Regions from separate parts of the Homo sapiens genome. Here regions 1, 2, 3, 4 and 6 are each reported to be linked to region 5. Evidence: microRNA targets listed by miRTarBase, many of them from high-throughput screens and not tested one by one. Region 5 holds a microRNA gene; each other region holds the end of a gene's coding sequence. Distances are between the middles of the regions.

Evidence for each region. Region 5 holds the annotated microRNA hsa-miR-1290 (UGGAUUUUUGGAUCAGGGA, at 2,530-2,548, opposite strand). A microRNA usually pairs through its seed, bases 2 to 8, with sites in the 3' UTR of a target mRNA and lowers its output. Matches are read on the target gene's strand: a 7mer-m8 pairs with bases 2 to 8, a 7mer-A1 pairs with bases 2 to 7 and ends in A, and an 8mer does both.
Region 1: the mRNA of PRDX3 is a reported target of hsa-miR-1290. Seed matches in the 3' UTR shown: 7mer-A1 at 2,650-2,656.
Region 2: miRTarBase lists ADD2 as a target of hsa-miR-1290. Seed matches in the 3' UTR shown: 7mer-m8 at 3,591-3,597.
Region 3: the mRNA of PYGO1 is a reported target of hsa-miR-1290. Seed matches in the 3' UTR shown: 8mer at 2,604-2,611 and 7mer-A1 at 2,404-2,410.
Region 4: the mRNA of TRPM7 is a reported target of hsa-miR-1290. Seed matches in the 3' UTR shown: 7mer-m8 at 3,041-3,047.
Region 6: the mRNA of TOMM20 is a reported target of hsa-miR-1290. Seed matches in the 3' UTR shown: 7mer-A1 at 1,446-1,452 and 7mer-A1 at 2,273-2,279.

Annotation. Positions count from the first base shown.
Region 1 is chr10:119,165,153-119,169,241 of GRCh38, forward strand. PRDX3 (peroxiredoxin 3) reads right to left here. Exons shown (of 7, transcript NM_006793.5): 6 at 4,025-4,089; 7 at 2,568-3,381. The coding sequence ends at 3,328. It overlaps SFXN4 (sideroflexin 4), which reads right to left and starts at 562. Exons shown (of 14, transcript NM_213649.2): 1 at 385-562. The coding sequence starts at 495. RefSeq lists silencers at 13-199, 241-710.
Region 2 is chr2:70,660,005-70,664,093 of GRCh38, reverse strand. It overlaps ADD2 (adducin 2), which reads left to right. Exons shown (of 16, transcript NM_001617.4): 16 at 359-4,089. The coding sequence ends at 669. Among named protein-coding and RNA genes, the nearest start is that of ADD2, 110 kb to the left of the region's middle.
Region 3 is chr15:55,542,421-55,546,495 of GRCh38, forward strand. It overlaps PYGO1 (pygopus family PHD finger 1), which reads right to left. Exons shown (of 3, transcript NM_001367806.1): 3 at 1-4,075. The coding sequence ends at 3,603. Among named protein-coding and RNA genes, the nearest start is that of DNAAF4, 36 kb to the left of the region's middle.
Region 4 is chr15:50,558,351-50,562,429 of GRCh38, reverse strand. TRPM7 (transient receptor potential cation channel subfamily M member 7) reads left to right here. Exons shown (of 39, transcript NM_017672.6): 39 at 622-4,079. The coding sequence ends at 752. Among named protein-coding and RNA genes, the nearest start is that of USP50, 14 kb to the right of the region's middle.
Region 5 is chr1:18,894,549-18,898,637 of GRCh38, forward strand. MIR1290 (microRNA 1290) reads right to left here and starts at 2,600; the gene lies at 2,523-2,600. All of the region lies in intron 1 of ALDH4A1 (aldehyde dehydrogenase 4 family member A1), which reads right to left.
Region 6 is chr1:235,108,629-235,112,702 of GRCh38, reverse strand. It overlaps TOMM20 (translocase of outer mitochondrial membrane 20), which reads left to right. Exons shown (of 5, transcript NM_014765.3): 5 at 595-3,362. The coding sequence ends at 639. Among named protein-coding and RNA genes, the nearest start is that of SNORA14B, 17 kb to the left of the region's middle.

The DNA of each region.
Region 1 (4,089 bases), not on the chromosome of region 5:
GGTGGCTTCCCAAAGCCTCGGGGGTCTCACCGAAAGTGGCTGAGCTTACCAAGGTGCGAGAGCCTGTTTCTCCCCAATCTGCTGCTCAGCCACAGCTCAGGCAGTAGGGAGCAGCCACCTGCGCGGACTGGGCCCCTCCGAGAGGGCAATCTGGAGGGTGACGTTGTGGTCGTGGGCATCTGGCAGCTTCGATTTCCCCTGCGTCCCCTGCCGCGCCCTAAGGGGTGAAGGCCGGTGGTGCGCGTTCCCGGCACAACTCCGAGAGGAGGAAACGGAGACAGGGGGCGCCCACGTGGCCTGGCCAAGGTCACCCGGGTCAGCCCGACTCCACGCGGCCCGGCCCGCCCCCTCCCTGCCCCTAGTCGCGCCGGGCCCGGGCCGTACTTGGCGCTCGGTGATCCAGAAGCGCACGTTGGGCTCAATGAAGGCGGGGACGGCGTCTCTGCGTCCTAGGAGCCGCCCAGGTTGCGTTTCCTCCTCCTGTTCCAGGGACATTTTGCGCTGGTTAGAGTGGCCGCCGCCGCCAGGCCGCGCGTGGAGGAGGAGCCGGGCGGCGAGCCCCGCCCCGGGCCGCGCGCACCCGCAGTTCCCGCCCCAGGCCCGCGCGCCCGACGTCCCGTGTCACAGCGCCTCGGGGCCCTTGCGCGCCCACTGTTCCGGCGAGCGCAGCTCTCCCACGGGCCACGTCCTCCCAACCCTGCTTGCCCTGCTCCGCACCTTTGGGGAGCCGGGCCGTCTCCAGGCCCCAAGGGGTCACTATCGGAACCCGTCATCACAGTACCTAATGCGAAGACCCGGAAAGGTTGTGAGTGAGGCCGTCCGCAACCTCACCCTGCGCTTCTGCCGCGCCCTACCCCTGGTCATTACCCTCGAAAATCCCTCCGATGGCCCACGAATTCCAGTGTGCATGGTGTTGCGCAGTCAGGCCGGCTGCATCATGGTCTCAGCCCAGGGAAAATGTCAAATGCGGTGCCCCTTATTCATGTTACTGAGAATTTCAAGAGAGTAACACCAGAGCATCAAACCAAGTATAGGGCCCTGGGCACAGTGCACTATCCCTCAGCCCAACAGGTTGTTTTTTTTTTTCTTCCAGTGTTGGGGCAAATCCAGTTCCTTTTGTTGACTACCAAATAGGTACCATTTGTAAAGAAAAACCTGCCTTCCCTTCCTCCTCCCACCTGCCCTTCCCCAGCACAGGGCCAGGCGGGGGCTGTGTGCACTTAAATTCACGGAAGCCACAAGTGTGCCTAGGTCGTTCAGGGGGCCTCCGGAGTCCAGGACTGGGGGACCCAGCACATCATCTAGTTGTGTGACCCTCGCCAAGTCAGTATCTCGAAGTCTATTTTCCCATCCGCAAAATGAGGATAACAATTGTACCTATCTCAGGGTTTTGTTTCTGATCAAAGGAGATAAAACATCCCTAACACAGCACTGAGCCCTCAGAAGTGCTCAGTATTGGCCATTAACCTCCAGCGGGCCAATTCCTTCCCTTGCCCTGCGCCTCCAGGAACAGGAAATTGGCTCATGGCGTCCTTCAGGCCTGTATGACTCTGCTTCTGTATTTGCTCAGTTTGCCTAGCTCACTTTTCTTAACCTCCAGGGGTTTATCTCCTCTTCCAGGAAGCCTTCCCTGACCCTCCGAGTTGAGTAAGGTGCCCCCTCCACTTCTACCCTTATGCCGCAGAAATCCATCTAAGCACCAGTGCAGTATGTAGCGTGCTGTTCTATTCTGTTGTCTCTACCCTCCAGGATGTCACAAAGCCAGCCCGCTGGCCTGCTTCCCCACTTTGGACTGCTATGTCGTCTTAACAAAGGAGCCAGAGTGATTCTCTTAGAACAAGTTGATGTCACTCTTCTTTTCAAATCCTTCCTGACATTCCCCACCCCAGAACAGAACCTAAAGTCCTTGGCCTGGCCAAAAGGCACTCTGGGACCCCCACCACAGCCATAGTCACCGGCCTCCTAGTAAATCTGCATCCGCTCTGAGCCCACTCTTGCCTCACGGCCTTTGTGTTTTCCCTGCCCTCTGCCTAGAAGTCTCTTATCCCCGTAATACTCTCACTTTCTACGCGTTTTCTCTCCCTCGATGCTCATCAAAACCCTGAGATAAGTACAATTATTGTCCTCATTTTACAATGAGAAAATTGATCCAGAGAGGCTCTCCCTTAAGGCCTTCCTTGACAACCCCATCTAGAACACCTACAACTCCGCTTCAGCAGTTTCACTCCACATTATTTTCCTTCCAAACACTCTACTTTTACTACATGTATGAGGTGTTTCCCCTCTAGAATGTAAGAGCTTAAAAGCAGGGGTTTGTCCGTTGTTCGCTCTTGTGCCTGGAAAACAGCACCTGGTGCGGGGTAGGCACTCAAGGATTTACTGAAACAACGAGAAAATGTTTCCCTATCTGTCTTGCCCCTAAACCGAGTTCCTTGAGTGCGGAACCAGCATCTTATTCTCTTTGTGGCCCCTGAGGTAAATGCTCAATAAATGTTTGTTGATAATCTGAGAAGGAAAGGAGAGCCCAAAATAAGCTGATCCAACAGTTACTGGTGGTAAAATGCAAATGTTTTAAAATATGTTTATTTTGTATGTTTTACAATGAATACTTCAGCAAAGAAAATAATTATAATTTCAAAATGCAATCCCTGGATTTGATAAATATCCTTTATAATCGATTACACTAATCAATATCTAGAAATATACATAGACAAAGTTAGCTAATGAATAAAATAAGTAAAATGACTACATAAACTCAATTTCAGGGATGAGGGATCATGCATGATCAGTTAAGTCACTCTGCCACTTTTTAAAATAATACGATTCACATTTGCTTCAATCACATAAACATTCATTGCAGGAGTTACACGGCTAATCATTGAAAATTATGATCTTTGTTAGCTTAAAAGAAAATTCAGTTTAATACAAAGACATTCAAGATGAAAATTTCAGGACCGTTGATCAGAAGCTTTCAATGTGTGTTGCTCTACTTTATTATAGGCAAGATTCAAGTAAGGCTAAGAAAGAAGAGTGTTTCCATTGAGACATGATCTAAGAATAGCCTTCTATAGAGGCAAATTATGTTCTGTAGAAACTAGCTAGCCAGCCACCAAGATGTTACCAATAAAGGATTCCTTGTACTAGCAACTAACCATGTTTAAAAGGTCTTAGCCAGAATTACAAAAACAAAACATTTAGAGTAATACTTATGAATACAAGCATAATTGGTTCCTTGCCTTCTACAAATAACCATCTTGAAAATGATAAAAGCAGGTTTCAACTGTGGTTCTTCTCTCAGTTGAGAAGGTGCAGATACACATGGGTGATCTACTGATTTACCTTCTGAAAGTACTCTTTGGAAGCAGCTGGACTTGGCTTGATCTGAAAATACAAAAGCTTAATTAGGTAACTGTGACTTTACCATAATAATAGTCCCAAAAGTGAGTGGCAATCTCCCAATTTTTAACCTAAAGTTCTTTAAACTTTTAAAGATTTCCTTTAAAACATAAAGATGAAAGTTTCATTAAGGCCTGCCTGTCTCTAGGCCGGGCACGGTGGCTCACGCCGGTAATCCCAGCACTTTGGGAGGCCAAGGCGGGTGGATCACGAGGTCAGGAGATCCAGACCATCCTGGCTAACACGGTGAAACCCCGTCTCTACTAAAATTCAAAAAATTAGCCGTGGTGGTGGGCGCCCTGTAGTCCCAGCTACTCAGGAGGCTGAGGCAGGACAATGGCGTGAACCCAGGAGGCGGAGCTTGCAGTGAGCTGAGAGAGCGCCACTGCACTCCAGCCTGGGCGAGAGCAAGACTCCGTCTCAAAAAAAAAAAAAAAGGCCTGCCTGTCTCTGATAATTGGTTCCTGGCTCCCCACCCCACCCCCTCTACCCCACAGCAGCTTCACCCATTTGCATATCATCTGCACGCTTGCTTCAAGAGTGGGCTCCCTTTTGTGGATATTTCAGGTCAATAGCTCTCGAGGCTGAGAGAACATGGACCTCACTGCTTTTGGGGAAAAAAACCTACCGTAGGAGAATCCGGTGTCCAGTTCGCTGGGCAGACTTCTCCATGTGTTTCTACATACTGGAACG
Region 2 (4,089 bases), not on the chromosome of region 5:
ACCTCACGCCTTCTCCTTTCTCTGTGTCTGTTTCTTCTTTCTTGCCTAGAAAAACTCTGAGCTGGACCCCAGCCGGGCCTCCTGCCACTTCAGACATTAATATCCATCTAAATTCATAGACAAGAGCCCAGAGCTGCCAGCCTGCAAGGGGGTGTTCCCAGGACAGGCCACATGGAAGGTGCAGATCAGAACCCAGTCCTTCCATCTGTCTCTGGTAGCCATCCCTCAACATCAGGCTGGCCCTCCCCTCGCTCTGGATTGATTTTATAGAATTCCCTAGAAATGGTTCTGTTAGCCCCAGGTGGAAGCTGTCACCTGAATGAAATCTTACAGGTCATATCTTTTGATCTTTTTCTAGAAGGTACTAAGAAGACAGAAACAAGCAAAGCCGCCACCACAGAGCCCGAAACAACCCAGCCGGAAGGGGTGGTGGTCAACGGGAGGGAGGAGGAGCAGACGGCAGAGGAAATCCTCAGCAAAGGCCTGAGCCAGATGACCACCAGTGCTGACACGGATGTTGATACCTCTAAGGACAAAACCGAGTCGGTCACCAGCGGCCCCATGTCCCCAGAGGGCTCACCTTCCAAGTCTCCCTCAAAGAAGAAAAAGAAATTCCGAACCCCCTCCTTCCTGAAAAAGAGCAAAAAGAAGGAGAAAGTGGAGTCCTGATTCATGACACCCTTGGGCTCCCTCCTGCCTCCTCTCTCTCCTCCCCTTCCCTTCTCCCATCTCTGTCCCTGCAAGCACAGGGCTAAGGAGGGATAGAGTAGGACCCTGGACCACATTCGGAAGGGGAACTTAGAGATCACCCGACCAACCCTTCGTTTTACAGTTGCCCAAGAGAAATCAGGTGACTTGCCCAAGGTCACACAGCTAGTTAGCGGCAGAGCCTGCACTCGAATTCAGGTCTCCTGACTTCCAGTCCAGTGCTCCTTCTACTACACAACACTGCCTAGTTGTGGGCTGCCTTTGTTTGGATGCTGTCCACCAATCTGAGCCTAGGGCAAGAAGGCCAGAAATGGGCCGTGAGCTCTCACAGGCTCAGACTAAATCAGAGGTCAAGGCTTCCCCTGAGTAAGGTCCATTTCTTCCCAGGAATCCAATCTCCTGTGGATGGAGCTATCTCTACATTTAAAAATCTCTTCTCTTTTCCACTTTGGGTCCCTGCCCTGCTGCTCAAAGTGACTAGCCAAATTGACCCCTCCAACAGAAAGTAATCTTTGTTCCCAAGGGCTGATGGCTTAGCTTGTACTACCCCAAACATTAACCCTGAGCTTTCTTCATGGAACCTCTTGAATGATGGATGGAAGAGCTATAAGAGGTGGTAGGCATAGGGGCAAGCCATGTAAGCTGAGGATTGGGGATGGTTTCATCAACATAAGAGGCCAGGAACTTGACCCCTTTGAATTGTGCATCTCAGGCACTTCAAAACTAAAACCAAATTTAGCATAGGAAAAAGTTGTTTAATGCTCAGGGCAGAAATTTGGGGAAGTTGAAATCCTCTGTTGGCTTTGGGTTGTATAAGGAGGATCAAAACAACAGAGGAAATGCTGACTTTCTAGCTTTGCATGACACCTGGAGCAATGCACTGTACCTGCCTCACTCCTGTCCAGTGGTCAGGTTTCCCCTGACCTTCCCTCACCCCCAGAAACACTTGCTTACAGACCGAAACTGGCATCTTACTCTTGGCACCTTGACTTGCACCCTCTGAGGTTCCAACTCAGTCATTCTTTGTCCAGCAGAGGAGAATCAGAAATGAGCCCTTCAGGATTAATCCTCTTGCACCAGCTCTCAGAGAAATGCTGGGTATCCCTGTCCTTGTCCCTATCTGTCCATCCTGGGGCCTGGTAATGGCCACAGTTATTGTTTTAAATGCCAACACTGTCTTCTCATGTTCTTCCGTGGGGCATTGATTAATGAGCATTTGTTGGCTCCTAAAAATTAGACAATCCATTCTCTTGAAAGCACCGTGTCTTGAAAGAATATTTTTCCTTTTGATCTGACTATCGTGAAAATATTTTTGAAAGTTCTTAATCATAGTTTTCCACTTTTGAGCACTTGCTATCTATAGACACTGTGCAGGCTTCACATACATTACATTCTTTAACCCTCACAGTAATCCTTTGAGGGGGGTAAGATCATTCCCATTTTGTGGGTGAGGAAATTGACCCCCTAAAATGATAATTGACTTGTCCCAGCTGACTTGGCTAGAAAGATCTGGATCCTGGATTTGAATCCAGGTCAGTCTGAGTCCAGAGCCCTTGCTCTTAACAGCTATGGTGAACAGACAACTTTAATCCCCAGGGGTGGTGGTTTTCATCCAGGATTTGTCTCTATGACTGTTCTCCATTGCATAATGTTAGCACGTGAAGCAAAGGTAGGGAACACCCTGTGCTCATCCTCATCACTGCACGTGAAGTTCCTGGTCAATGTGGACTGTGGTGATGCTACTGTGTGCCTCTGACAAAGGAGAGGCAAGAGCCTTCTGGTTGGGGCGGGAAATACCATCCATAGTTGGCTATTTCTTGAGAAGGAAGGAAACTGACCTAGGACCAAGGTAAACCTGACACTGTGTCTCTCTAGTGCAGATTCCTAACTGCTACCCCAGGCTCCATCTCTGTTCTACTTCCTGATTGGGTCAAATTTTAGGAGGGACAACCCACTCATGCCTCAGAAAAATCTGTCATATGGGAAATGCCTTTAAAAGCCAATCCCTTGATGCCTTCTTTTAAAAAGTAGATTTCACACTTATTCATTTATCCTTACATGGTATTTGTTAAGGATCCACTGAGCACCAGGCATTATGCTGACGTTGAAAGAGAGCCATCATTATGACTAGAATAATAAGTGGCAAACGATGTTGTGAGAATGGTGAACACGACCTCTGATGCAGCCTTTTGTGTGCGAGTTGTTCTACTTCGGGGGTGATGTTGATTGCCTCTGCATTCAACACACTCTATTCCCTTGACAATGAGGCCTCACTTAGGCCTCATTGGGTGGAGTCTTGCTGCAGCATTATTCTGGGAATTTATGCCATGGGCCCACTTTCTATTGATAGATGAACCTGTCAGTTGGTTCATTCCTCATGCATTCCAAAAACATGCATTGAGCTTGGGTCAAGGGCCAGGCATGAGGATAGGCATAGTTCCTGCCCTCAAGAAGTTCATGAGCATAGGAGGTGTATAGACAAATTGCAAAACAGGCAAGGGTACCAAGGTGGCATAAGAAAGCATCAATTAACTATCTTGGGGACCAGAGAAACCCTGAGAGAAGCAATGGCTGCTAAGGTTTTAAAACAAAGAGTAAATTTCCAGTAGAATGAAAGGATTGGCAGGGCATGCCACAATGAGGGAAGAATGTGCAAAGGTGTGGACGCATGAAATGCCATGATGGGTTCCGCTGAGCAACGTGGCATTGCCAGAGCATGATGTGGAAGCTCAGGGGTTGAGGGGTCCCTTCATAGGTAGGCAGGGCTGAATCCTAAGGAAACTGGTAGGAAGTGTGGAGGAGCTAGACTTGTCATGGAAGGGGTTTGGAGCCACTGGAGCCTTTAAATCAGGATAGAGTCATGATCAGAATTGCATTTTAGGAAAATCCCTTTGGTGGCTGAATGGAGACTGTGGACTGGATGGGCGTGGGATGGTGGCATGGGAGCTATGAGGCCTTTTTGAAATGTCAATACTAAAACATAGTTGATGGCCTGCTTTACACGATGTTTCCTCTACAGCAGATAGTGAGTTTCCAACACAAAATTTATTTCCATAAAAGTCTTTGGATAAAGCACCTTAAGAGGGATTTTCAACAAGGAGAGGGGAGCATTCAAAGAGCTAATGTTTCCAGTTTTATTTTGTCTTGGTGTAGAATTGCTGGGAGAGGTGTCCAGCCATCCTGCCATTTCTTCTTCCCTTGCACAGAATGTGGCACATTTAGCTCCAGGCTTGAGGACATGCACCAAATGCTACAGAAACAGACATGTGGTCCAAACAAATCTACAGGCTATTAGAAAGGAAAGGCCATTTTCTTTGGCTGTGGATAAAAGTTGGCTGAAAACTTTGACCAATATCTGACTGGAGAAAATGTGTATTCAAG
Region 3 (4,075 bases), not on the chromosome of region 5:
AATAACAATTATAGCAGTACTCTAAAGTATTTCACACAAAAGGAAAACACTGATCACAAATCTAATTCTAAGCACTCTGTCTGAAGAACAATTTATCTTTCACAAGCTGAGCTGTTTCAGTATTAGTGAATCGAGTAACACCTAGAAGCATGTGGACCACAAATTCTCTAGTGCATGAGCAAGTCAAGTTCTGAGAAAGGAACTGATGCTTTTTAAAATTTTCTGTCTGGCCAGGCGTGGTGGCTTACACCTGTAATCCCAGCACTTTGGGAGGCTGAGGCGGGCAGATCACTTGAGGTCAGGAGTTTGACACCAGCCTGGCCAACATGGTGAACCCGTCTCTACTAAAAATACAAAAATTAGCCAGGTGTGATGGTGGGCGACTGTAATCCCAGCTACTCAGGAGGCTGAGGCAGGAGAATCACTTGAACCAGGAAGGCAGACGTTGCAGTGAGCCGAGATCTCATCACTGCACTCCAGCCTGGGCAACAGAGCAAGACTGGCAAAAAACAAAAACAAAACAAAACAAAACAAAAAAAACAAAAAAAAACCCACCTTTCTGTCAATAACCTAGCTTTGGTGAGTAAACCTAGATGCTCATAGTTAGCCAGGTTGAATTTAAGCAAAACTCAAGGATGTTGGAGAAACTGTGGGGGGTGTGTGTGTGTGTGTGTGTGTGTAAGATGAGGACTTTCAGTGAAGGAAAGGGATTATACCAAAAAAGGTACAATTCCACCTGTGTTTTTTTCCATCACTGCATATTTTTAAAGTTGAAGGCAGCTTATCATTTATCCTAAGAAGCCATTTCAGTTTGTATAATAGCCTTCTTCAGACAAATTATCATCTGGCTATTCTTACAGTTCATCACTTATTCCATCCAAAAGCATCTATATAACTTTTGACTTAGCATTATGTAGAGACAAATGTAGAACTAGCAGGAAAATTAATTCAAACACATGAACGCTATTCATCAGCTATGATTACAGTTTGGCTATGATTCACTATCAGAATGAACCGTGAGTTTTTCTTTTGAATATTTACAGATTCTTATTTAAGTAAGGTGCTTTGAAGACCTAAACACCTGAATAAAAATTCACCTGTTTGTAGGTTTTTAAAAACAACTATGTGGAAATAGAAAATGAATTATATTGCATAACACATACCTTTAGACTAGCTTGGGAGAAGTTATTTCATTTTCACAAAAACAGCTAACTACTGAAACTTAAAGAGATAAAGGGTTTAAGAAACTGCATAATTGATTTTAGTAATGATCACAACTCAAGTACTACCATGTAAAGTGTTAACTCCTGAGAACACTGGAAAGTTCTACTCAAAATATCTATCATCTAGCTCTATTCAGGGTAATAATAAATCATGATCTGATGCTACAACTAGGCATACAGCATACAGTGCATCATTTATTAAAAATCAGCACTCATTAAACTTTCAGGAGCAACATAACTAGGTCCTTAAACATTTAGAGAAATATGTATAATAAAAAATCCAAGTAAAATGAGATCTTCAAGTACACTACTGAACACCATCAAATGCCTGTCAGCCCAAAATACTGCATTTTAACCTGCTTCAACTGGTAAAGTTTTCACACAAAGGAGTACCTAGAAGTATAGTTTATATCATTTTGTTTCCTAAAATTGTAAAGATAAATATTTTACAACTACTGAAAATATTTTGTACTCACCTCTAACTAGTCAAGGGTAAATGGAGAAAACCTTGTATTACCTTGTACCATATGAAATTGCTGTTTTTGTAGGTCAAAATTAAAACAATGTATTTAAAAAAATAAGTTTTATTCAATCAAAATATGCATCAGGAGCATGAATAGTTTTCTTCCAACAGAATATTAAAGGTCTAACTTTTATAAAATTCATCATTTGTTAGGCTGTATAAATTGTTAACATCTTCCAGTTACTTCATCTCGATTGGGGAATGCATTGTTTCTTAGAAAAAGCTCCAAATGATAGACAGTAGTCCATGGAATAAAGGTCCAGTGACTAAAATGGACATGACAAAATTTCATAGCCCAAGTCACTTAACTTTGCTTTAGTAGCTTGTGACATGTGAGGTCGAGTCCTTGTCTGTGAAAGTGTAGGTTCTTGTGTGTTACCCAAAGGACATTGTTTTTAAATCACATTTTCATGCATAATTTAAATTTCTTGATAATATGCTGCTGCCGTCATTGTTTCACTTGGGTTTAAATAACAGTAATTATTTATCTCTTTCGTAGATCACCACACAATCTTCAGAATTTTTTTGGTTGCAATGATAATGGTGGCAACATATTAGGGAGCTTTACCAGCCTCCAATGATTGTATAAATTGCCATTAGCTGTCAAACAGCACACATTTTTTTTTTTTGGCCACAGGTTATAATCTGCTCCAAAAATGGATTTCTGCTGTTTTGAATCTTAATGAGCACAACTCCAACTGTCTCCATTCTTGATCATCCCTCAAGAGGGTACTCTCAGGTCCATTTTTATACTTTTCCCCAGTCAGAGCGGGAATTCCTTAAGTCTGCTGCAAGGCTTCAAATTGTTGTTTGCAAGTTAGATTTCACTTTGGCTCTTAATTGATCTTTGTTTAAAATGGATTTTGATCTCCCCTAGGGTTCATTTTTGAAATTCAGATCCCCAGAACAAGATTTTTCAAACCACCACTGAGTAGTTCTTTTACTAGCAGAGCCCTCTAAGGCCAAATGGATGTTTCTACCTTCCTCATCTGCAATATGTCCCAGTTCAAAATTATAAAAAAGTATTCACAATTCTTCTGTGGATACTATAGTATTTCTCTGGAAAACAATAAACAATAACAAGACAACTCAATATCAAAGAAAAGTAGGAGCATAATACTATCATAATTCTAAATAGCACAACTGGGAACGTACGTTATACCAACTTTACTAATTGCAGTCAATTTTCAACTGATCTAATATTAGCAATTTCATGTGGTACCATCCACAAGTTAATCAACAATACTTACTGAGAATTTACTATATGCTAAGATCTGTCTCGTATCTGTACAAACAGATATCCTGAAAACTCACTTGAAATATGAAATTCATTGATTCCAAAGACCCTAGTGGAGGAGGAATCTGGTGTCATACTATTATTTTTTTAATCCATAAAAATGTATGCTTTCCCCCATGTTACAGTTACATATATTATGTTGTGAAGACGTGTTAAGTGGATCCTTGATAAACTTTTTGAACTAAATCTTTAATATGGTACAACCAAAGTTCAGCACTGAAATACACGTTTTTCAATGATTCTAACTTTTAAAAGTTAAAACTTGCCTACATTTGTTATATATTATTTTGAAGTTTCAAGAGGCTTTTATGTTTGTGATAAATAACAACAACTAACATTTATTTATGTTTCTAAAGCACCCCCATATACATTATTCTCATTTAAGACAGCAAGCAAAGACAATAAAAAATTTGCTCTAGTGATGAAGTGATTAATAAAAACTAAGTAAATAATGTTTTTGTGTATGCATTTAAAAAAATAATGTAAAACATTAAAATCCTGTGTCAATGAACTTCTGCAATGCACAGGAAAATAAACCCACTTTAGTTAATGCCTTTGATTAAGCATCACTGCCCACTGCAGATGGACCAAAAGTTTCTCTAGTACGCATTAACTGGACATCTTTGTCAGCCATACAGGTATCACAGCCCCATACTGCAGATGCTTCTGCAGTTAAGAGGCCATAAGCTGTTTCAGTCATTCCAGTACAGATCCGATGAAACCATTTCTGACAAGAGGCCTCACATAAGATGGCATCCTGATCATCGTTCACCTCGTTTGTACAAATTCCACAAGGATACACTGGGTCAGAAGACGAATGGCCATGACGGTTTGGGTGAAGAGAGGATTTATTGCTTTTTTCTGTGGTGCAGGCATCTGCTGCACCTCTTGGTTGTCGTGGCTTATTCTGCGTCCCATTTGCAGGGTTATTGTTTGTGGCTTCAGTGCTACTTGAACGGCTGTTCTCCTGATTTACTGCATTGTTTCGATTAACATTTTTTAATTCAATATTACTCTGATTCACTGTGTCAT
Region 4 (4,079 bases), not on the chromosome of region 5:
CACCCACTAGAATATAAGCTCACTGAGACCAGTGAGCTTGTCTGGTTTGTTCACTGCTACATTCCCACGCCTACATGAGTTTCTGACTCATGGTCAATATGTAATTATTTGTTGAATGAATGAATGACTTCATTTTTATGTGTATAAATTTGGTGACTACTGAATTTATAACAACCTGATGGAAAACAAGTCTGACATGTTTGGAGAAAAATTGATTAGAAATGATCCTAATTCAGCCGGGCATGGTGGCTCACACCTATAATCCCAGCACTTTGGGAGGCCGAGGCAGGTGGATCACCTGAGGACGGGAGTTCAAGACCAGCCTGACCAACATGGTGAAACCCTGTCTCTACTAAAAATACAAAAAATTAGCCGGGCATGGTGGTGCATGCCTGTAATCCCAGCTATTTGGGAGGCTGAGGTAGGAGAATCGCTTGAACCCGGGAGGTGGAGGTTGCAGTGAACCGAGATCGCGCCATTGCACTCCAGCTTGGGCAACAAGAGCGAAACTCCGTCTTGAAAAGAAAATAAAAGGTTCCTAATTCTCCATTTCTAAGAAATACTAACTTTTTTCTTTTCTCTTTCTTTTTTTTTTTTAATTGTTGTGGGTGTTCAATGTAGATCTGAAGAGGAATGATTATACGCCTGATAAAATTATATTTCCTCAGGATGAGCCTTCAGATTTGAATCTTCAGCCTGGAAATTCCACCAAAGAATCAGAATCAACTAATTCTGTTCGTCTGATGTTATAATATTAATATTACTGAATCATTGGTTTTGCCTGCACCTCACAGAAATGTTACTGTGTCACTTTTCCCTCGGGAGGAAATTGTTTGGTAATATAGAAAGGTGTATGCAAGTTGAATTTGCTGACTCCAGCACAGTTAAAAGGTCAATATTCTTTTGACCTGATTAATCAGTCAGAAAGTCCCTATAGGATAGAGCTGGCAGCTGAGAAATTTTAAAGGTAATTGATAATTAGTATTTATAACTTTTTAAAGGGCTCTTTGTATAGCAGAGGATCTCATTTGACTTTGTTTTGATGAGGGTGATGCTCTCTCTTATGTGGTACAATACCATTAACCAAAGGTAGGTGTCCATGCAGATTTTATTGGCAGCTGTTTTATTGCCATTCAACTAGGGAAATGAAGAAATCACGCAGCCTTTTGGTTAAATGGCAGTCAAAATTTTCCTCAGTGTATTTAGTGTGTTCAGTGATGATATCACTGGTTCCCAACTAGATGCTTGTTGGCCACGGGAAGGGAAATGACTTGTTCTAATTCTAGGTTCACAGAGGTATGAGAAGCCTGAACTGAAGACCATTTTCAAGAGGGACGGTATTTATGAATCAGGGTTAGGCTCCATATTTAAAGATAGAGCCAGTTTTTTTTTTTAAATAGAACCCAAATTGTGTAAAAATGTTAATTGGGTTTTTTAAACATTGTTTTATCAAGTCACTGTTAAGTAGAAGAAAGCCATGGTAAACTGATACATAACCTAAATTATAAAAGCAGAAACCTAACTCACTCGTCAAGGGAAGTTACCTTTTGAGGAAAGTTAAAGTACTTTTTTCCCTATCTGTATCTATAGCAACAACCCAGAACTTACAAACTTCTCCAAAGATTTTATTGATTGTTATATCAAATCAGAATGTAAACATGAACTCTTGCATATATTTAAAATTGTGTTGGAACATTTGAACATGAATGCTGTTTGTGGTACTTAAGAAATTAATTCAGTTGGATTATCATTATGTGATACTGGCAGATTGCAGTGCAACCTTATGCCAATAAAATGTAATTTAACAGCCCCAGATATTGTTGAATATTCAACAATAACAAGAAAAGCTTTTCATCTAAGTTTTATGCTTTAATTTTTTTTCTTTTTTTTTCTTTTTCTTTTGTTTCCTTGGTACTAATTTTAATTTTTATTTGGAAGGGAGCAGTATAAAGCTTATTTGTATTTAGTAGTGTATCTCATAGATACAGACAAGGCAAGAGATGATAAGCTGTTTAAATAGTGTTTAATATTGATTGGGGGTGGGGAGAAAGAAAAAGTGTATTACTTAAAGATACTATATACGTTTTGTATATCATTAAATCTTTAAAAGAAATGAAATAAATTTATTGTTTACAGATGTTTAGTGAGTTTAATCATTCTGAAAAATTATCTGACATTTTCAGGGTGTCAATTTGAGTATCAGTTTTTTTAAATGAACCATTTGTATACCTGTGCTTTTGATCTCCTGTCCTGTACAATGTTTAAATTAATACTGATTTCTTACTGTCTTCTTAGAAATCTGTTTTTTGTTAGGCCAAAAAAGGGCAATATGGGCTGTCTGTTGATTTTTAATTTTATATTGATTATTTTCACAGGATTATAATAGTAGCTATACTTTTTTTTTTTTTTTTTTTTTTGAGACGGAGTCTCGCTCTGTTGCTTGGGCTGGAGTGCAGTGGTGCGATCTCAGCTCACCACAACCGCCGCCTTCCGGGTTTAAGTGATTCTCCTGCCTCAGCCTCCCGAGTAGCTGGGACTACAGGCACACGCCACCATGCCCAGCTAATTTTTATATTTTTAGTAGAGACAGGGTTTCACTATGTTGGCCAGTGTGGTCACAAACTCCTGACCTTGTGAGCCACCGCACCTGGCTGCTAACACTTATTTAGTGCCTACTGTGTACCAGACATTACTCTAAGTATTTCACATATATTAACCTACTTAATCCTTATAACAATGTTATAAAGAAATAGGTGTTATTATCCTGTTTTGCAGATTTGAAAGTCAAGGTGCTAGAGAGGTAAAGTAACGTCCATAAGATTCTTACGTTTATTTAATAATAAGTAGCAACGGTAGGATTTGAACCCAGGCTGGCTGCCTTTCATCTATACTGTTTTTGTTTTGTTTTGTTTTGTTTTGTTTTGTTTTGTTTGTCTTGGTGGGGCATGGTGGCTCATGCCTGTAATCCCAGCACTTCGGGAGGCCAAGGCAGGTGGATCACTTGGGCTCAGGAGTTTGAGACCAGCCTGGGCAACATGGCAAAATCCTATCTCTGCTAAAAAAAAAAATACAAAAATTAGGCCAGGTGCAGTGGCTCATGCCTGTAATCCCAGCACTTTGGGAGGCCAAGGTGGGCGGATCACAAGGTCAGGAGTTCGAGACCAGCCTGACCAACATAGTGAAACCCCGTCTCTACTAAAAATACAAAAAATTAGCTGGGCATGGCGGTGAGTGCCTGTAATCCCAGCTACTCAGGAGTCTGAGGCAGGAGAATTGCTTGAACCTGGGAGGTGGAGGTTGCAGTGAGCTGAGATCGTGCCATTGCGCTCCAGCCTGGGCAACAGTGCGAGACTCCGTCAAAAAAAAAAAAATAACTGGATGTGATGGTGTGCACCTGTAGTTCCAGCTACTTGGGAGACTGAGGTGGGAGGATCACTTGAGCCTGGGAGACTGAGGCAGCAGTGAGCTGAGATCATGCCACTGCTTTCCAACCTGGGCAACAGAGTGAGATCCTGTCTCAGAAAGAAAAAAAAAAAAAAGACAACCTCTTGCTCTGTTGCCCAGGCTGGAGTGTAGTAGCGTGATCATAGCTCACTGCAGCCGTAAACTCCTGGGCTCAAGCAATCCTCCTGCCACTGCCTCTTGATTAGGTGGAACCACAGGCATGCACCACCACACGTACCTAATTTTATATATATATTTTTTTATTTTTCATTTTTATTTATTTTTGTTTTTTTGAGTTGAAGTCTCACTCTGTTGCCCAGGCCGGAGTACAGTGGCACAATCTTGGCTCACTGCAACCTCTGCCTCCCAAGATCAAGCAATTCTCGTGCTTCAGCCTCCAAAGTAGCTGAGATTACAGGTACCCACCATAATGCCTGGCTGATTTTTGTATTTTTCGTAGAGACAAGGTTTCACCTTGTTGGCCAGGCTGATCTCAAACTCCTGACCTCAAGTGATCCACCTCCCCCGGCTACCCAAAGTACTGGGATTATAGGTGTGAGCCACCATGCCTGGGTAACACCCAACTAATTTTAAATATATATTTTGTAGAGATGGGGTCTAGCCTTGTTGCCCAC
Region 5 (4,089 bases):
TATAAATAAATGTAGTAGCGGCCAGTTCTCCTTTCTCCGTTCCCTCCCAGGAAATGTCAGAGTCAGAGATCCTGCAGGCCTCCCTCCTCCTTCCACAGGGCAGAGGCCCAGATGCCCACTGTGACCTCAGGATCACATGCCCCCACGGCTTTCCCTGTGCCTGGAAGTCTCCAAGCACTGGCCCAGCTGTCCGTCCATCAGTCTGAGTGTGGCCTGGAGAACAGACACTAGTTCAAAGTTCAGCCTGAGTCGACTGCAGCTAAAAATAACCTAAGGACTCCCACCCATCAGTGCTTTCTTTTTTCTTTCTTTCTTTCTTTTTTTTTTTTTTTTTTTTTGGTTCATGAACAATTTTGGGCTAACAGGAGTATCCATCCACTGGCTGCTCGGGTGAAGGCAGAGATGAATCAGTCACAGGACTTGGGGCCTCTCTGAGGATCCATGAGGACCTTCTTGGCAGGACAGCATTCCTCATCCATTCACGCATTTATGCAGTCAGTACACATTTATTCCACATGGCAACGATGCAGAGATAAATTGGATCAGGTCAATAACAGCTCACTCAATTATTCAGCATGCGTTTTCCAAGCACCCAGGAAGTGCCTGGCTCTGGGAGGCAGATATGGATCCAACCCAACCTTTCTCAGAGCAGCCCTCAGTCCTCCCACTTAGGGAAGGCGGCACAAGACAGAGTCTGAATCTGACTCAGGTTTCCCTGAAAATCTGCAGTGCCCTTTCTGCTCATGCCCTGAGCCTGAGACCTCAAGTTGGTCCCCCTCACCCTCTACAAGTGGGATCTAATCTACGAAGGCCATGCACCGTTTCACCTCCTGCACTGGAAGTTGTCAGGGCTACAAATGCTGGGATCTGATCCACGAAGGCCATGTACCGTTTCACCTCCTGCAGCGGGACATGTCAGGGCTGCAAGTACTGGGATCCGATCCATGAAGGCCATGCACCATTTCACCTCCTGTGGCAGGAGATGTCAGGGCTACAAGTACTGAGATATGATCTACAAAGGACATGCACCATTTCACCTCCTGCACCAGATGTCAGGGTTGCAAGTACTGGGATCTGATCTACAAAGGCCAGGCACCATTTCACCTTCTGCACCAGGAGATGTCAGGGTTGCAAGGAGCTGTGGGCCAGCCAATGCAGCTTCAGAAATCTATAGAGGGAAAAACTGAAAAGACACAGAGGGCCCAGACTCCACCTTGCCCAAGACACCTCGTCCGAGGTACTAGTCACTTCAACCTGGACTCACGCCATGCCAGCCCTGCTCCAGTCTCCAAGTCACTCAGGTCCACACCGCAACCAAAGTTAACATGAAAATCTGATCATCAGAGAGATGGCACAGTGGGGAGCTCAGTGAGAAACTACTCAGTGGCTTCTCATTTCTTCTAAAATAAAGACATCAGAATCCTTACCAAGGCCTCCAAATGTATTCCCCATCACCCTGCCCCATTTGGTGCAATCCGGTCACCCCGGTCTCTTCTGGGGTCCTCTCTGCTTGAGATGTCCTCCACTGGTCCAACCTCACATAGCCGGAATGGGGCTCCTATCGGATTCCTCTCATAGCTCTAGACTTTTCTGGAAGCACTAGTGAAAACCCTATTATAGAGCTCTGACTGACCATCTGTGTGCCCGCCAGGCCACAGGCTCCACACAGCCAGCCCGTACCCATCCCATTCACCACCAGGCACCCCAAGCCTAACACACTGACTGGCCACAGTAAGCACCTGAGAAATACAATCAATGCATGAGTGTCAGAGCTGACACCAGGCCCCCAGGACTGGACTCCAAGGCCAGTGCTCTTCTGCTATCACCTGGGGCTGGACACTGGCCCCTTGGGTTCCCCAGTGGCTAAGGTGAGGGGTGGCCAAGGACAAGGAGAGGAGAAATAGAAAGGAAATTATCTTTGCTTCATGCAGCCTCCTGACTTTTCCAGCCATTATCTGGAGCCTGATAAGGCTAATCCTCCCTATCACCGACATAAAGGCAACACTAGGTGAGCAGAGAAAGTGCAGGGCCCAGGGCGGGGCCTGGAGGGAAAGAAAGGCCCAGCCAGGCAAAGTGGCTCACACCTGTAATCCCAACACTTTGGGAGGCTGAGGAGGGTGGATCACTTGAGGTCAGGAGTTTGAGACCAGCCTGGCCAACATGGTGAAACCCCGTCTCTACTAAAAATACAAAAATTAGCTGGACATGGTGGCACATGCCTGTAATCCCATCTACTTGGGAGGCTGAGGAAGAGGAATTGCTTGTACCCGGGAAGAAGAGGTTGGAGTGAGCCAAAATCGTGCCACTGCACTCCAGCCTGGGCAACAGAGTGAGACGATGTCTCAAAAAAAAAAAAAAGAAAGAAAGACCCAATGCCAGGGATGAGCTGCTTCAGCCACTGCCCAGCAAACATCAGGCAACATTTGTCAAGCACTTGCCACCACATGCCAAGCATTAACCTAAGTGAGACAGGATCATCTCACTGAATCCACCACATAAGCGTATGAGGAACGCATGACAAGTTGAGCATCCCTGATCCAAAAATCCAAAATCCGAAATGTTCCAAAATCTGAAACTTTTTGAGTGTCAACGTGACGCTCAAAGGAAATGCTCATTGGAGCATTTTGGACTTTGGAACTTGGGAGTAGGGATGCTCAACTTGTTCGGCAAATTCTCCAAAATCCAAGCAAGTCCAATATACAAAACACTTCCGGCCAGGCGCAGTGGCTCATGCCTATAATCCCAGCGCTTTGGGAGGCGGAAGAGGGCGGATCACTTGAGGTCAGGAGTTCTAGACCAGCCTGGCCAACATGGCAAAACCCCATCTCTACTAAAAGTACAAAAATTAGCTGGACGTGGTGGCGTGTGCCTGTAGTCTCAGCTACTTAGGAGGCTGAGGTAGGAGGATGGCTTGAGCCCAGGAGGTGAAGGTTGCAGTGAGCCAAGATCTGGCCACTATACTCCAGCCTGGGAGGTAGAGCGAGACTCCGTCTCAAAAAAACAAAAACCCAAAAAACGAAACACTCTGTTCTGAAGCATTTCAGATGAGGGACACTCGACCGTAGAATGATCTGTTTACGGATGAGGTTCAGAGTTACTCACTCCTGGCTCAGGGTCACAGCTCATGAGTGACAGAGCAGGATTTGACCCCAGCTGTTCCTTACTCAGGAGACTTACAGTATGGCTGAAGCACCTGGAACATCTCAGAGGCCCATGGTCAGGTGGGGCTGATGGGACACGTTCATCCTCCTCACCATACAGCTAGAACCTCATTTCCACCTGAGGAAAGCCGCCGCCCCAAGGTGGGCAGTGACTTGCCCAAGGTCACTCAGCTGTCCACTGGCACAGCAGCTCAGCCCAGGGACTCTTCACTCCATGCCATGACCTCTGCCAGGAAAGGGAAGGTTTGGGGATTAAGGAGGCTGCAAGAAAGGGAGAAGTCTTTTCCATCCCCTGAGGTGAGCAGGGTCAAAACCCTAACAGAAGGTCGGACGCAGTGGCTCACGCCTATAATCCCAGCACTTTGGGAGGCTGAGGCAGGAGGATCACTTCAGCCCAGGAGGTTGAGATCATCCTGGCCAACATGGTGAAACCCCGTCTCTACGAAAAAAAAAAAATACAAAAATTAGCTGGGTATGGTGATGTGCGCCTGTAGTTCCAGCTACTTGGGAGGCTGAGGTGGGAGGATGACTGAGCCCAGGAGGTTGAGGCTGTAGTGAGCTGAGATCATGACACTGTACTCCAGCCTGGACAACAGAGTGAGACTCTGTCTCCAAAACAAACAAACAAACAAACCAACAATAATAACAGAAGAGGTTTGGCATCTGGGGTACTTAATTGGAATAAACAGAAGAGACCGAGGACATCTGAGTTCCATACCTCCCCTCCTGCCACCATCCTTCACTGCTGGGCCCTGCTGTCTTGATATTCCTGATCGAAGATGATCACTCCAGGAAGCCCATTGGTGGGAGAGGGGGATCATCATAACCACAGCAGCACTTACTGAGCATTTCAGGTGCTGGGCACTCCAAAGTGCTTTCCATGTATGAGACCATTTAACACGCAGGACAATCCTATGAGGTGACTACT
Region 6 (4,074 bases), 220 Mb from region 5:
TTTGCCTGGGAGTGAAAAGAGATCTTAAAATCTTTTTGGTTTTAGTTACATAATTGACTGATGTAATATTATGTAATGATGGCTGTACACAGTGTCTCATGCCCTATAATCCTAGCACTCATTTGAGCTCAGGAGTTCAAGGCCAGCCTGGGCAACATGGTAAAACCCTGTCTGCACCAAAAATAAAAAAAAAATTAGCCGGGCATGGTGGCATGAGTCTGTGGTTCCAGCTACTCAGGAGGCTGAGGTGGGGGAGGATCGCTTGAGCCCAGGAGTCAGAGGTTGCAGTGAGCTGAGATTGTGCTACTGCACTCCAGCCTGGGTTACAGAGACCCCATCTGAATTAAAAACATATATAATGTAATGATCTGCCTCCTTTGTTAACTTGACTTTTGAAATGGGATTGTCAGTAGTATGATCATTGTTTTCTTGGATGCCGACTGTGTGTAAAGTGTTACATTTTGAATTAAATGTCAGAATGGGTGAACTTTACTAAGATTCAATTCTTTGAATACAAAGAGCATTTTATTTTGAAGTTAGAATCCTAATTAAATGCTTATGACACTTTAAAAAATTATTTTTTTTTTCTTTCAGAGAATTGTAAGTGCTCAGAGCTTGGCTGAAGATGATGTGGAATGAGAAACAAATGTCAACATAATAAAATCTCAGTTAAAAATATTTTAAAAATTCTTGGTAGTTGAGCAGCTCTGGGGGAATAAGGGCAAATATGCTTGTTATGAACTACACTGAAATCTACCAAAGTTAATGTTTACTTTGTGTAGATCCATTTGTCTATTTTATTTATTTTTCCCAGTGAAAAGTGTATTTTGATAGAGAACTTTTCATTCTATAAATACACTATGAGTTACTAAAATATCATGGATTTTGTTTATTCCTGAAACATAGTTACATAGTTAAACTGTACATATGACATGGCTTATGTTAAAAATACCCAGTGCTCAGTTTTGAAAGATAGGCAAAAAAAAAAAAGTATAGGAGAAACTGAAGAATGTACACTTTTTTAGAGGGCACATTTTGCTGTAAATCTGGAAATTTGATAGACTTGACTGTGTTTGTGAAAACTGAGCATTAAAGGTTTTGATTGATCCTTTCTTTCCATTTAATCTCTGAGACGTAAATATGTGAGGTGTGCTGCTGTGCTGGGTTAACAGCTTCCTTCCCTTTCTGTGTAGCAGTCTTGAAATGTTCTGTTTAAATCAGTAGGCTTAATGTGTTCTGGGTATTTATCTCCTTGTATTTTAAATATATGTAGTTGCAAATAGCACCAGGAATTAGATTTCTGTACACCCCTAATCTAGCCTTGTGAGCTTCGCTAGTTAATGTGTGCTCACTTTCCCTCCATTTGTTACGTGAGAGAATGCGTCTGCTGATCACTGAAGTGTCCCTTTTAGCTTCTGATTCATTGGGTTCTGTTGGGCATCTTTAAATCCACCTTAACCTGAGGAATGTATGTGGGCAACCAGGCCCTGCATTTTTTTATATTCTGAATTTTGCATGCTTGCCTGACTTAGTATTTCTGAATTGATGTTTTTTTTAATGGTATAACTATCTTGATTTTCACTGAAATTATATGGTTCTGTCACTACTCTGTAAATTAATCCGAAACTTTTAAGGTAACTGGGATGATCTGCTTGTAAAAATGCTTGTTGCCTTTTGCTTTATCTTCAGTGTACCTCCTTAATCCTGCTTCAACTTGATTATCTTGTGAAACGATGAGAGTAAGTTGCAACCTTGTGACTGAAAACTTGAAAAGAGTGGAGCAGGTGGGACCTCTTATTCTCAAATAGTGACATATTCTCCGTAGTCACAGTTTCAGAACTGAGTAAGGATCCTTGGTACTTGGTGGCATCTGTTGAACTGAGGAGCATTTCTCATTGTAAAGATTGCCTTTGTTCTGTCTAAAAGTCTGGAGAAATCCCAAAGACTTTTCCTATGTACTAGGCATTTTATTTTGATTGACTTACAAACTCTTCTTAATCATTATCAATCTCGGTTTTTTTGTGGTGCAGTGGAAGGAGAAATAGGTCTAGTTTCTGCCTCTGATTAGCCGCACAGCCTTGAACAAATCACATTTCATCTTTGAACTTACCTCTACTGTTAGACTAGGCGACTCACATTTGAGGACTTTTCTCGGGTATCTTGAGGGTTTGTGATCCTGAACCCTTAAACAGTGCTTTTTTGTTACACAGGAGGGCTTTTTTGGGGGGATGACCAGTACAGACATGCCAGTTAGTTTTACTAGTGGGATCCCAAATCCAAAGCAGTGTAGTGGTGATTGGTCAGTGACTAACCAGGCAGCTAAGAAGTCTTAGGCAGCAGCCCAGACATGTATAGAGGGGCAGTTAGAGGGAGAACAGGGGTGGGAAAGGGAGCAAGGGGCAGATAGCTCAGCAAGGAAAGAATGGGCTCAGAAAAAGGAGGGCTGGCTGGAGGAGTGAGGGGCAGCTTAAGTTTGGGGAGGGTAGAAACGCCGTTTCCTTGGGAACTGGAGTGCAGTATGAGCTGGGTGTCACTTGGCTCTGAACATACTGGCTTTGCTGTAATGCTTGAAAAGGCGTTGGTATCTTCATTTTACAGTTCATTAACCCAAGTACGTTTTCTTATTTAAATGACAACTTTGGTGCTTTAAAATGAGGTACCACTTTTTAAAGCTAGCTGTGTCGAGTTAAAGAAAAAATCAGCAGTTTTTTCTCCCAGAAATGTAATTGCCAAACACTATTCATCCCCATCTTAAGTTTTACAAGGTGATGTAATCAGCTTGTTGTAGTGATGCTGGCCAAATGGTGCTCAGCAGGTGAGAACAAAAAAACCCCAGATCTCAGTGAACTAATACACAGCTTGAGCGTTTCCATGTGCTAATGTTGCACACTTACTAAAAAACTTTGGAAATGGAAAATAATGTATTAGTGCAACAGTTGATGTGCTTCTTTGGGCAAAGATATAGTTTTGTTCCACAATTTGTACTTAAAAGCGAAAGAACATTGAAAACATAGACTTACTGGCTGTAGCAATGCTGGCCTGTTAACTGATAACTAGAACTTAGGTTCACGTTTATGTAAAGTGTGTAAAACCTAGTAGAGCTTGCATAGTCGGCACTCAGTAAATGTTTGGTTCCTTTTGCCCCTTGGTAAGTTTATTTTACCATCCTCCCACCTGCCATTCTGACTTTATTAAATCAACATGTGGACCAGAGTGTTAATGAGATGTTATTGCAGAAGAGATTGAGAAAATTGGTATATCATGCAGATAACATACAAAATCTTTTTGTAACGTAAAAAATGCAGTTTTATTATTGCTTGTGCCTCAACTGTTTAAGTGAATATTAAAGGGCTTGGAGAAAACTTTGGCTTGGCGTATGTTTGGAGAAGTGAACTCTGCTGAATTTATTGAGTCTAAAGCTGTGGGTTTTTTGTTGTTAACGTCTTTGAGGATGTCTAGGGCCGCAGGCTTCCCTGCCAGAAGAATGCACATTTGCTTCAGATTCCAGGTGAAGAAAATCCCTGTGGTAGTGTCAGCGCCTGAGGGCTTCCAGGTGGTGGTGGGCCCAGCGTCAGGAGATAGCAGTCACCTGGGAGGCCCGTTACAACAGGTTCGTGAGAGGAGCCCAGTGGTGGTGGTGCTGACGTGCGAAACATGAAGGCTTGTTAGAGAAACCAGCTGTGTTAAGGTGACAGAATGTGTACGTTAGCACTGTAAAAAGCAGCTAATTGGTAGCAGAACGTGCTAGCTGAGAATACGTTGTATTCTACATCACTGATAATGATCTGAAGTGTACAAGTCATCAGTATCAGATCTATGAGAGTTTTTGTAGTTTTGCTCTAACATAAATTTCTCTTTGCCACCTCCAAAGTTATTATATTAATAGTAAAAGTAATGCTTTGGAGAGGGTGGAAGGGGGTATGCCCTAGCCTCCACAGCTCCTGCCACAAACTGCCCAGATAAGCAGGACCTGAGTGTGTTGAAAGGCTGAGTTGAAGAGCAGATTGACACAGGAGGGCTGGAATGAACGTTGGCTAGAGCAGGTGTGTCCAATCTTTTGGTTTCCCTGGGCCA